Linked DNA regions of Homo sapiens: region 2 is linked to region 1. The links come from fine-mapping of genetic effects on gene expression. A gene starts in region 1. The other region holds a variant in brackets. All regions are shown on one strand. Distances are from middle to middle. Region 1 holds the start of SLC43A2 (solute carrier family 43 member 2). Region 2 overlaps SLC43A2 (solute carrier family 43 member 2).

Region 1 (5,366 bases):
GAGTGCAGTGGCACGATCTCGGCTCACTTCAACTTCCGCCTCCCAGGTTCAAGTGATTCTCCTGCCTCAGCCTCCAGAGTAGCCGGGATTACAGGTGTGCGCCACCACACCCAGCTAATTTTTTGTTTCTTTAGTAGAGACAGGGTTTCACCATCTTGGCCAGACTGGTATCGTACTCCTGATCTTGTGATCTGCCCACCTCGGCCTCCCAAAGTGCTGGGATTACAGGCGTGAGCCACCGCGCCCAGCCATTTTTGTATTTTTAGTAGAGACAGGGTTTCACCATGTTGGCCAGGCTGGTCTTTAACTCCTGACCTCAAGTGATCTGCCCGCCTCAGCCTCCCGAAGTGCTGGTATTACAGGTGTGAGCCACCGTGCCCAGCCAGGAACTGGAACTTTATCCTGTTTTACAAATAATAGTTTCTGAAGGATTTTGGCAGAAGTCACATTTACATTTCCCTTAGTGCCCTGGGATGAGATGGGGGCTGGATTTGAGGAACTGAAATCTGAAGGTGGCTCAACAACAGTAGTTGCGGGCCTAAGGGCACAGATGGACCGATTAGGTAAATATGTAGGAGATACAGCTGTATCAGTTTGATGGGGATGCGGTGAGGGAGAGGCAGAATCACAGCGACTGCCTAACAAATGTCTGATGAAAGGATGGTTCTCAGCAGGGCACTGTGAGTCATGCCTGTAATCCCTGCACTTTGGGAGGCTGAGGTGGGAGGATCACTTGAGCCCAAGACTTCAAGACCAGCCTGGGCAACAGGGCAAGACCCTATCTGTACAAAAAATACAAAAATTAGCCAAGTGTGGTAGCATGCACCTGTGGTCCCAGCTACTTGGGAGGCTGAGGCAGGAGGATCACCTAAGCCCAGGAGGTCGAGGCTGCAGTGAGCTATGATCATGCCACCACACTCCAGCAGTCTGGGTGCCTGAGATCCTGTCTCAAAAAAAAAAAAAAAAAAAGAAAAAGAAAAAAGACAGGGTTCTTGGTATCTAACTTCAGTAGACAGTAGTAGTATGGTTATCTGAGAGAAAATGTGGAGGACAGTTCTGGGGGATATTTGAGGCATGTTTGAGCCCTGCAGCGCCGTCAGGCTGCTCAAAGAGGAGGGAAGGGTGAAGAAAGAGATTTTTCAGATGGCAGTTGAAACCTTGGGAGTGGGAAGGGTTCCACAGGGTGAGGAACCGGGTAGGCTACCAGCTGGAGCCGCCCCCCAGCAGGCTGACAGCTCCAAGCGTTGTCTGGGGGAGGTTGCCCTCGCCAGGTGGCCCGGGCGGATTCTAGACAGTAGGGGGCACACTCGGACTGGGGCAGGTGGAGCAAGAGGCGTTTGGGGCTCCCACAGCCCTGGGGTGGTGGTGGGGTTTTATTTTTGGTTTTTATTTTGGTAGAGATGGTTCTCGCCATGCTGCCCAGGCTGGTCTCAAACTCCTGTCCCCAAGTGGCCCTCCGACCTTAGCCTCCCAAACCGCTGGGATTCCAGACGTGGACACCGCGCGGCAGCCCTGGGGTGCTAAGCCAGCCCCCCGGAGCGAGCCAGGGTGACCAAGGCGATTCTGGGGCAGTCAGAGGGTCTTCCCGGGTCGGGTTAGTGCCTCGAATCCGGGGGACGAAGACGGGGAGCTGAGCTTTCGGAGCCCGGGCTTATCAGACGGGGACCCGGAGCCCCCTCGAACCCTCCCTAGCTTGTACCAGCTGGCGGACGTGGCCCGTAGCATCGCCCTGCAGAGGGGACCTTCCCTGAAAGGGACGGGGAACGGGGTGAAGGTGGCCAGCGCGGGCAGGGAGCACCCAGATGACGATCAAGGGTGGAGGGTCCCCGGAGGACCGAGCAGTGCGTGAACACGGGCGGAGAAAGGTCAGTCTGATGGGGGGAGCTCAGGAGACCCCATCCTAGGACGGGACAGACCAGCCCCAAATCCCCTTGCAGATTTCCAAGGGCCAACTTCCAGGGACCGGGCAGACGCCACCGGGGAGAGGGGAAGGGGTCGGTGCATCAGCGGGGGGCGCCACGGCTGGACCGGGTCCGGGATCCCAGGCCCCGAATACGCCGGGACGGGAACCACCGGGGCGGGGGAGCGAGGAACCAGGACCCAAAGCCCGAGGCGGCGGGGACGGCGGCGCTGCGTGGGGAGGAGGCGGGGTGGGGATTCGAGAGTGGAACCACCGTGCGGAGCCGGCGCATCTGGGCGTGGTGACCCGCGCGCAGGGGGCAGCTGGGGACGGCGGGGCGGCCGCGGGAGAGCCCGGCTGGGGGCGCTGGTGGCCCGGCGGCTTCTGGGGGGAGTCCGCTGGGGGCCGGGACGCGGAGCCGGAGCCCCAGCCTCGCAGGGTCAGGCCGCTGGAGAGGCCGCGGGGCGATGTCGCCGGGGATTCCCGGCCGCGCTGTGACTCGGGTTGAAGGCTGCAAAGCCGAGGCCCGGCCCGCAGCGCCCAGGCCCCTCCCGTCCCCCATCTCTCTTGTTTGTCTCCGAGTCCGGCCGGAACCGGCTTCTGCTCGCGGCGGGGCGGGCGGGGGGCTGGCTGCTGATTGGTCGACGCCTGTTTCCAGCCCCGCTCAGCCAATCAGCGGGCGGCAGTGTTTTCTTCTTGGGGTCGGAATAAAAGGGCTGGAATAAAAGAGGGCAGAAAAGGCGCCGGGCGGGCCCGACACACGCCGGAGGAGCCGGGTGAGCTGCAGCAGGGAGGGGATCGCGGCCGGGGCGAGGGCGCGGGGGCAGAAGCGGCCGCCGAAGGGGCGTAGGGAGAAAACGTGGGAACGAGGAGAGAGATGGAGCGATGAGGGGCCGCCAGGGAAGAGATGACGAACAGATGCGGGCTGGGGAATGGAGGCGCGGGGGTCCGAGGCCATGGAAACGGGCGAGTTGCCGGGGGAACGCCCGAGATGGGGGTCGCGCGGCTGGCTCGCGCCACCGGTTTGAACCGGCTCCTCGTCTCCCACGCTGGGTTCGCGTGGCCGCAGCGCCTAGCGACCTAGACGGCGGCCAATGGCGCGGCAGTTCCTGCGCCGTCCGGCCAATGAGCGCGCCGGGGCGGGCCGTTCCGTAGGTCTGGGCGCTGATCTTGTGGTTGAAGAAACCAGCTCTGGGGAAGGGTCTCGGGCGCGGGCGGGAGGGCACCTGTCAGGGTCCCTGGGAGAGGCAGCCCTCGGATCTGCCCCTGCCCACCTCACGCTGCGTTCCATGCTGGCCCCAGGCGATGTCAGTCCTGCTGCAGGCCAGGACTAGTTCCACGGCCCTGAGCATGCGTTAGCCCCTTCTTGCCTCCATGCCTCAGTTTACCTCGGAGTGAGCTGCGGGAGACGTCTCCCTGCCTGGCCGGGGCGGCTCTGTCGTAGCGGAGGGCAGCGGTACGAGCCGGCCGCGGGCTCGGGGTGTCCCAGGTCCGGGCAGGGCTGGGGTTCGCTTCCTCTGCTGCGCGCACCGGCCGCCGCGGCCGGGGAGGGGTGGCAATCCCGAGCCCTGCGGCAGCGGTCGGGGCTGCTGGGGGCGGCCGCAGGGGCTGGGCAAGGGCCGGCCGCTGACGCCGAGTTCTGTGCGCAGGTGGTGCAGAGCCGGAGCCGGAGCCGGAGCCGCGCCGCGCCGCACCATGGCGCCCACCCTGGCCACTGCCCATCGGCGCCGCTGGTGGATGGCCTGCACGGCCGTGCTGGAGAACCTCCTCTTCTCGGCAGTCCTCCTGGGCTGGGGCTCGCTGCTCATCATGCTCAAGTCAGAGGGCTTTTACTCCTACCTGTGTACCGAGCCAGGTGAGACAAGCGCCTGGGGTTGCGGGGGGCTCCTGGAGCTGGGGCTTTGGGAGGGGGCGGGATGGGGGCGAAGACCTAGCGAGCCACAGCACCGCATTGCCCAGTGCCTCTAGGGTATCAGAAGGCCCATCTGATCCTCACCCAGCCCTGCCGGGTACTTGTCATTGCCCCTGTTTTGTGGACGAAGACATCGAGGCTCAGAGCGATCTGTCTTGCGCAAGGCCGCAGAGCCTGGGCCTGCCATCCACCCAGAACCCCACCTGCTGTCCAGGGTGTTCCTTCCACCCGCTACGAACAGTGCTGGACTGCTCTCCTCTCCTCCCAGCCCTGGAACATAGCTTGGCTGGTAGTAAACATGTTGCTGTCTGCTTGTGAGAAAGAGGAACTCCAGATTAAGGGGCTGGGGTGCAGCAGGAGAGGAAGTGGCCTTGCCTCCACCCCAGGGAGGGCTCATCTAGAATCTAGACGTTCCTCAGGCCATTGTGGAGTCTCCTAAGTGCTTGCTGGACACAATTTCTTGTCTATTTTTGCTGCCTTATGATTCTCCAAAGGACATTTCCCCCACGGGCTCTGAGGACATCTCCGTGGCTTTCCAACCCCATGGGGATGAAGGGGAAGAGAAGAAAGGAACGTTTATGGAAATGATGCTAGGGTTGTTCTCTCCTCTTTGCCTTGTCACTGGAATTGCTGAAGGCAGGCTGAGGATGCTTCTCTACATGACATCTGCACCACCCAACACACACTTACCTTCACACCTTCATACCCTGTTGGAGGGTCCTGATGACTACAGGGCAGTAAATTCAGCCCCACAGGAGGGCCACAGCAGCCCCCAGCCTCTAGCCTCCTACCCTCCTTCTTAGGCAACCTTGACAGGAAATTTTCCCTCTGCCTTCTCCTTGATCCCAACGGTAGCTGCATAATAGCTGAGCTCACATAATCCCTGTCGCCAGTGCTAGAGTGCCCTTAGATGGAGGTAGCCCAGGTTTGACTTCCTGAATCCCCAGCAGCAGGCCTTTTCTTTCTAGAGCTCTTTGCAGGAAGAGAAAGCTTTGGACCAGCTCATGCTGGGTGTAATCCTTTGTGGAAGCCTCCCTGTTTCCCTTCTCTGATCTGCCCCGGAGATTCCTGTGTGTCCCAGTCTCTAGGGAGGGAGGCTTAGCTGGAGAGGTTCAGGGCAGGAGAAAGCAGGAGAATGCAGAGGCCGCGGGGAGAGGACAGAAAGTATATCATTTATAACTAACCTTTAGCCTTTAGCCACTCAAAAATATTTCCTAATAGCCTAAGGGTTCTTGGCAGGTCTTTCCCCACATCAGCAAGAAATCTTGGGAGTTGGGAAGAGTCAGACCTTGTTCCCTGAACAAGCTTTCTGCTTTGGCCAAGAGTTGTTAGGAGATTAATGCCTGTCCCCGAAAGGCACAGGTTGGAGTGTTTACTTCTTCCTCTCCTTTCCTCTCTCCCCCCTTAGAGATCGTGACCCTTCCTGCTTGCCTCCCTGGTGGGCTCTTTCAGGCTGGACACAGGGTTTAAAAAAAAAAAAAAAAAGCAGAAAAAAAGTCATCGTCCCCAGAGAAAGCTTTTAGTGTCTCACCCAGACCAGAGAACTGTTGTGGG
Region 2 (5,366 bases), 34 kb after region 1:
CCTGACCTCAGGTGATCCGCCCACCTTGGCCTCCCAAAGTGCTGGGATTACAGGCGTGAGCCACCTCGCCCGGCCTCATTTCTTTTTTTTTTTTGAGTCTTGCTCTGTCGCCCAGGCTGGAGTGCAGTGGCACAATCTTGGCTCACTGCAACCTCCACCACCCGGGTTCAAGCAATTCTCCTGCCTCAGCCTCCCAAGTAGCTGGGATTACAGGTGCACGTCACCATGCCTGGCTAATTTTTGCATTTTTTTAGCAGGGACGGGGTTTCACCATGTTCGCCAGGCTGGTCTTGAACTCCTGATCTTGTGATCTGCCCACCTCGGCCTCCCAAAGTGCTGGGATTACAGGCGTGAGCCACCGTGCCCAGCCTCTTTTTTTTAAAACGTAGTCTTGCTCTGTTGCGCAGGCTGGAGTGCAGTGGCACGATCTCGGCTCACTGCAACCCCCGCCTGGGTTCAAGTGATTCTCCTGCCTCAGCCTCCCGAGTAGCTGGGATTACAGGCATGTTCCACCATACCTCGCTAAGTTTTTGTATTTTTGGTAGAGACGGGGTCTCACTATGTTCCCTAGGCTGGTCTGGAACTCCTGACCTCGTGATCCGCCCGCTTCGGCCTCCCAAAGTGCTGGGATGACAGGCGTGAGCCACCGCGCCTGGCCTCACTGTGACTTTTTGGTGTCCTAATGGGTATCAAGTGGTATCTCATTGTGGCTTTGATTTGAATTTCACTATGATTAATGATGTTGAGCATCTTTCCATATGCTTATTGGCCATTTGTATATCTTCTTTGGAGAAATGTCTATTCAGATCCTTTGCCCATTTAAAAAATTGGTTATTTCAAAAAATAGCTGGGCGTGGTGGCACATACCTGCAATGGGAGGTGCCGCTCGGGAGGCTGAGGTGGGAGAATGGCATGAACCCAGGAGACAGAGGTTGGAGTGGGCCGAGATCGCACCACTGCACTCCAGCCTGGGAGACAGAGCGAGACTCCATCTAAAAAAAAAAATTGGTTATTTATCTTTTTATTATTGAGATGTAGGGGTTCTTTATATGTTCTATTTTTTGTTTTTTGAATAACTGTTGGGCACTATGTTTATATATTCTAGATGCAAGCTCTTGATCTGTGATTTGTAAGAAGTTTCTCCCATTCTGTGCATTCTTTTCACTTTCTTGAACTCCTGCCCTCAAGTAATCCCGCTGCCCCAGCCTTCCAAAGTGCTGGGATGACAGGCACGAGCCACCACTCCCAGCCTGTTTTCACTTTCTTTTTTTTTTGAGATGGAGTCTCGCACTCTTGCCCAGGCTAGAGTGCAGTGGATCAATGTCAGCTCACTGCAACCTCCATCTCCCGGTTCAAGGGATTCTCCTGTCTCAGCCTCCCGAGTAGCTGGGATTACAGGCGTCCACCACCACGCCCGGCTAATTTTTTGTATTTTTAGTAGAGATAGGGTTTCCCCATGTTGGCCAGGCTGGTGTTGAACTGCTGACCTCGTGATCTGCCTGCCTCGGCCTCCCAAAGTGCGGGGATGACAGGTGTGAGCCACCGCGCCCGGCTCTCTTTTCACTTTCTTGATGCCATCCTTTGAAGCACAGAGGTTTTAAATTTTGCTGACATCCCTTACTCATTTTTAAAAGTGGGCAAAACAGGCAGCAGTGACTGCAGACAGGTATGTCGCCAAGTTCAAACTCCCTCCGCTCAGTAACAGTTAATTTGCTTGCAGGCAGGCAGGTTTGATAAAACAAAAATTATTTATTTTGGGAGGCCAAGGTGGGAGAAGAGCTTGAGGCCAGGAGTTCAAGTCTAGCCTGGGCAATATAGTGAGACCCCATCTCTACAAAAATAATTAAAGGCCGGGCGTGATGGCTGATGCCTGTAATCCCAGCACTTTGGGAGGCCAAGATAGATGGATCGCTTGAGGTCAGGAGTTCAAGACCAGCCTGGCAGCATGGTGAAACCCTATCTCTACTAACAATACAAAAATTAGCCGGGCATGGTGGTGCACACCTGTGGTCCCAGCCACACAGGACGCTGAGGCAGGAGACTCGCTTGAACTTGGGAGGTGGAGGTTGCAGAGAGCCAAGATTGCATGTCAGTGCATTCCAGCCTGGGTGACAGAGCGATACCCTGCCTCCAAAAAAAAAACCACTAGCTGGGGCATGGTGGCGTGGGCCTGTTGTCCCAGTGACTTGGGAGCTGGGGGGGGAAGATCACTTGAGCCAAGTTGGAGGCTGCAGTGAGCTATGATTGCATTACTGCACTCCCACCTGGGCAACAGAATGAGACCCTGTCTCTCTCTCTCTTTTTTTTTTTTTGACACAGAGTCTCGCTCTGTCACCCAGGCTGGAGTGCAGTGGCGCAGTGTCGGCTCACTGCAAGCTCCGCCTCCCGGGTTCAAGCCATTTTCCTGCCTCAGCCTCCCAAGTAGCTGGGATTATAGGCGCCTGCCACCACATCCGGCT[A/G]ATTTTTGTATTTTTAGTAGAGACAGGGTTTCGCCATGTTTGCCAGGCTGATCTCGAATTCCTGACCTCAGGTGATCTGCCCCCCTTGTCTCTCTCTCTTTTTTTTAACTTTAAAAAGATACAGAGGCAGGGTTTCGCCATGTTGTCCAGGCTGGTCTTAAACTCTGAGGTCAAAGGCAGCACTCTGGGATTGCAGGCGTGAGCCACTGCGTCCAGCAGATCCTGTCTCTTAAAACAAGAAAAAAAGGTTGGGCGCGGTGGCTCACGCCTGTAATCCCAGCACTTTGGGAGGCCAAGGCGGGCGGATCACGAGGTCAGGAGATCCAGACCATCCTGGCTAACGTGGTGAAACCCCGTCTCTACTGAAAATACAAAAAAATTAGCCGGGTGTGGTGGCGGGCGCCTATAGTCCCAGCTACACGGGAGGCTGAGGCAGGAGAATGGCGTGAACCTGGGAGGCGGAGCTTGCAGTGAGCCGAGATAGAGCCACTGCAGTACAGCCTGGGCGAAAGAGCGAGACTCCGTCTCAAAAAAAAAAAAAAAGAAAGAAAGAAAGAAAAAGATTCAAGACAAATGGGGAGTGGTGGGGAGGGTGGAGGGGACATAGATTAAGTCCCCATAAGCAGCCTGAATTTAATGAAATAGGTTGGCATGGCTATCCAGAGGGCAGCCCCCAAGGCCAGGGACGCTGGGTGTGGACAGGAAAGGTTTGCTACACACAGTGTGATGTCTCTTGAGGTTAGAGAACCTGTGCCTCTTTGGGAGGATGTAGTTTGCCCTAGGCCTGGATTTCGGTAGAATGAGCAAGAGTTAGCCTTGAAGTCCTGTTCAGGTGGGCCCCCTCTTGCCCTGTACCCAGAATGAGCTGATGTGAGATGCCGAGAGTGGCTTCGTTGGGAAGAGAGCCCGGACCTTGCTTCCCGTTGGCCTTCCAGGATGCTAACTGCTCGGGCCGAACATCCTGTGGGAAGATAATCCCCTGCTTGTACTGAGAAATTCAGAAGCAGGAGGCCGGGCGCGGTGGCTCACGCCTGTAGTCCCAGCACTTTGGGAGGCCGAGGCGGGCGGATCACTTGAGATCAGCCTGGCCAACATGGTGAAACCCCGTCTCTACTAAAAATACAAAAATTAGCCAGGCATGGTGGCGGGCATCTCTAATCTCGCGACTTGGGAGGCTGAGGCAGGAGAATCACTTGAACCAGGGAGGCGGAGGTTGCAACGAGCCGAGCTCACACCACTGCGCTCCAGCCTGGGGAACAAGAGCAAAACCCCATCTCAAAACAAAGAAAAGAAATTCAGAAGCAGGAATCCTGGGCCAGCTTCATCCTCAGACCGAAGAGAACTGTAGAATTCTGATTGACATCTTCCAAAAACCTACCCTCTCCAAACCAAAAGCAGTTTTTGCTGACATCTGGTCTTTCTGGAATGCTGATATTTTTATTTATAAAATGATGCTATTATCCCCAAATAGATTCTTATTTTTAACAGGCTTTCTCCCTTTGAGGGCTGCCTGAGGCTCATAACTTTGTTCTCTGGCATCTCAGTGTTACCCTGAAAAGACAAGAAGGCTCCTGGGCTCTGCCAGGAGCAGAGAGATAGGGAGGGTTGCCAGCCGGAAAGTCAGACAACTGCTTGTATTCTGCATTACCTCCCTCCTTGGCCCCATCAGCCTCAGTCCATGAAGGAGAAACCTTCAGTGAGCGGTCATTGCCCCTGAACTAATGCCCCTGTGAGTCACACAGGAAGGGGCGCAGGTGAAGAAGGGGCCTCATGGGGCCTAGTTCTCTGTCCCCTCCTCCTCCCCTTCCCTGGTGCATCCTCCCCACTGAGGTTTCTCTGCTTCTTATCTCTCAGCTGCCCAACATGTTCGGCGACCTTCGGTCCACGTTTATTGCCTTGATGATTGGGTCCTACGCCTCCTCGGCAGTCACCTTTCCAGGAATCAAGGTGAGCACGTGTATTTTGCACTGGTGTCTGTGCAGAGGCCTGCTCCAGGCTCCTTCCACCCTCTCTGAAGAGGGAGGCAATTGTGGGCACCCGGGGTGGCCCCTCTCCACCACCCCCACCCGGGCAGGATGCACCTGGGCATCACAGGGGCGACAAATGAAAACCGCGGGGCCTCAGGGGACGGGAATCACGCATGTGGCTGCAGGATCTGCCGCAGGTGCCTTTGCATTTCGGGGCTGGGGCAGGGGAAGGGCGGTGGGTGAGTCTGTTTCCAGTTGTGAGTCTTGCCCCCGTCTCCTCCGTCATCCTGGTCTCCCGCTGCTCCCCTGCTCCCCAACCCCCAGCCTGCTGTTATTGTACCGTTACTCCCCGCCAGCCAAAGCACTGCTCTTGGCCAAGTGTTTCAGCTGTTTCCCTCCTAGGCAGGATTTTGAGCCTGTGGAAGTCACACAGGGTCAGGACGAAGCAAACACCTCACAGTCCATCAGCCCAAGTTCCCCAGACCCTGTGGGTCTGCCAGGGCCCCGTAGGGGCTTCTCCCACCTCTGACCCTCACACTAAGTAAAAGCCCCTTTCCTCGGTGGTGTGTGTGGGAATGCTGTTGGCGAGGAGAGGGGGACACGGTGTGGGCTGGCCACCTGGGCATTGAAGTGGTGGGAGCTGGGACTCTGGGGCCAGCCATCCTATGGACTTGCAGAGATTCTCATGCCCCTGGACTGGGGAGCATCCCGAAAGTTCTTCCTCCTCCTTTTTTTGGGGGGGAACAGGGTCTTGCTCTGTCGCCCAGGTTGGAGTGCAGCAGCACGATCTCGGCTCACTGCAACCTCCACCTCCCAGGTTCAAGTGATTCTCCTGCCTCAGCCTCCCAAGGAGCTAGGATTACAGGTGCCCGCCACCATGCCCGGCTAATTTTTGTATTTTTAGTAGAGATGGGGTTTCACCATGTTGGTCAGGCTGGCC

What was found. PIP is the estimated chance that this variant, and not a neighbour inherited with it, causes the effect. A credible set is the group of variants that fine-mapping cannot tell apart.
Region 2: its variant is the best candidate, but not a certain one, in a credible set for the expression of SLC43A2 in whole blood (INTERVAL, PIP 0.63).

Annotation. Positions count from the first base shown.
Region 1 is chr17:1,626,104-1,631,469 of GRCh38, reverse strand. It overlaps SLC43A2 (solute carrier family 43 member 2), which reads left to right and starts at 2,636. Exons shown (of 14, transcript NM_152346.3): 1 at 2,636-2,676; 2 at 3,550-3,755. The coding sequence starts at 3,596. RefSeq lists enhancers at 3,388-3,925, 3,926-4,463.
Region 2 is chr17:1,592,227-1,597,592 of GRCh38, reverse strand. SLC43A2 (solute carrier family 43 member 2) reads left to right here. Exons shown (of 14, transcript NM_152346.3): 6 at 4,314-4,406. Among named protein-coding and RNA genes, the nearest start is that of PITPNA, 32 kb to the right of the region's middle. RefSeq lists an enhancer at 3,457-3,958. The variant A/G (reference allele first, on the strand shown) is at 2,460.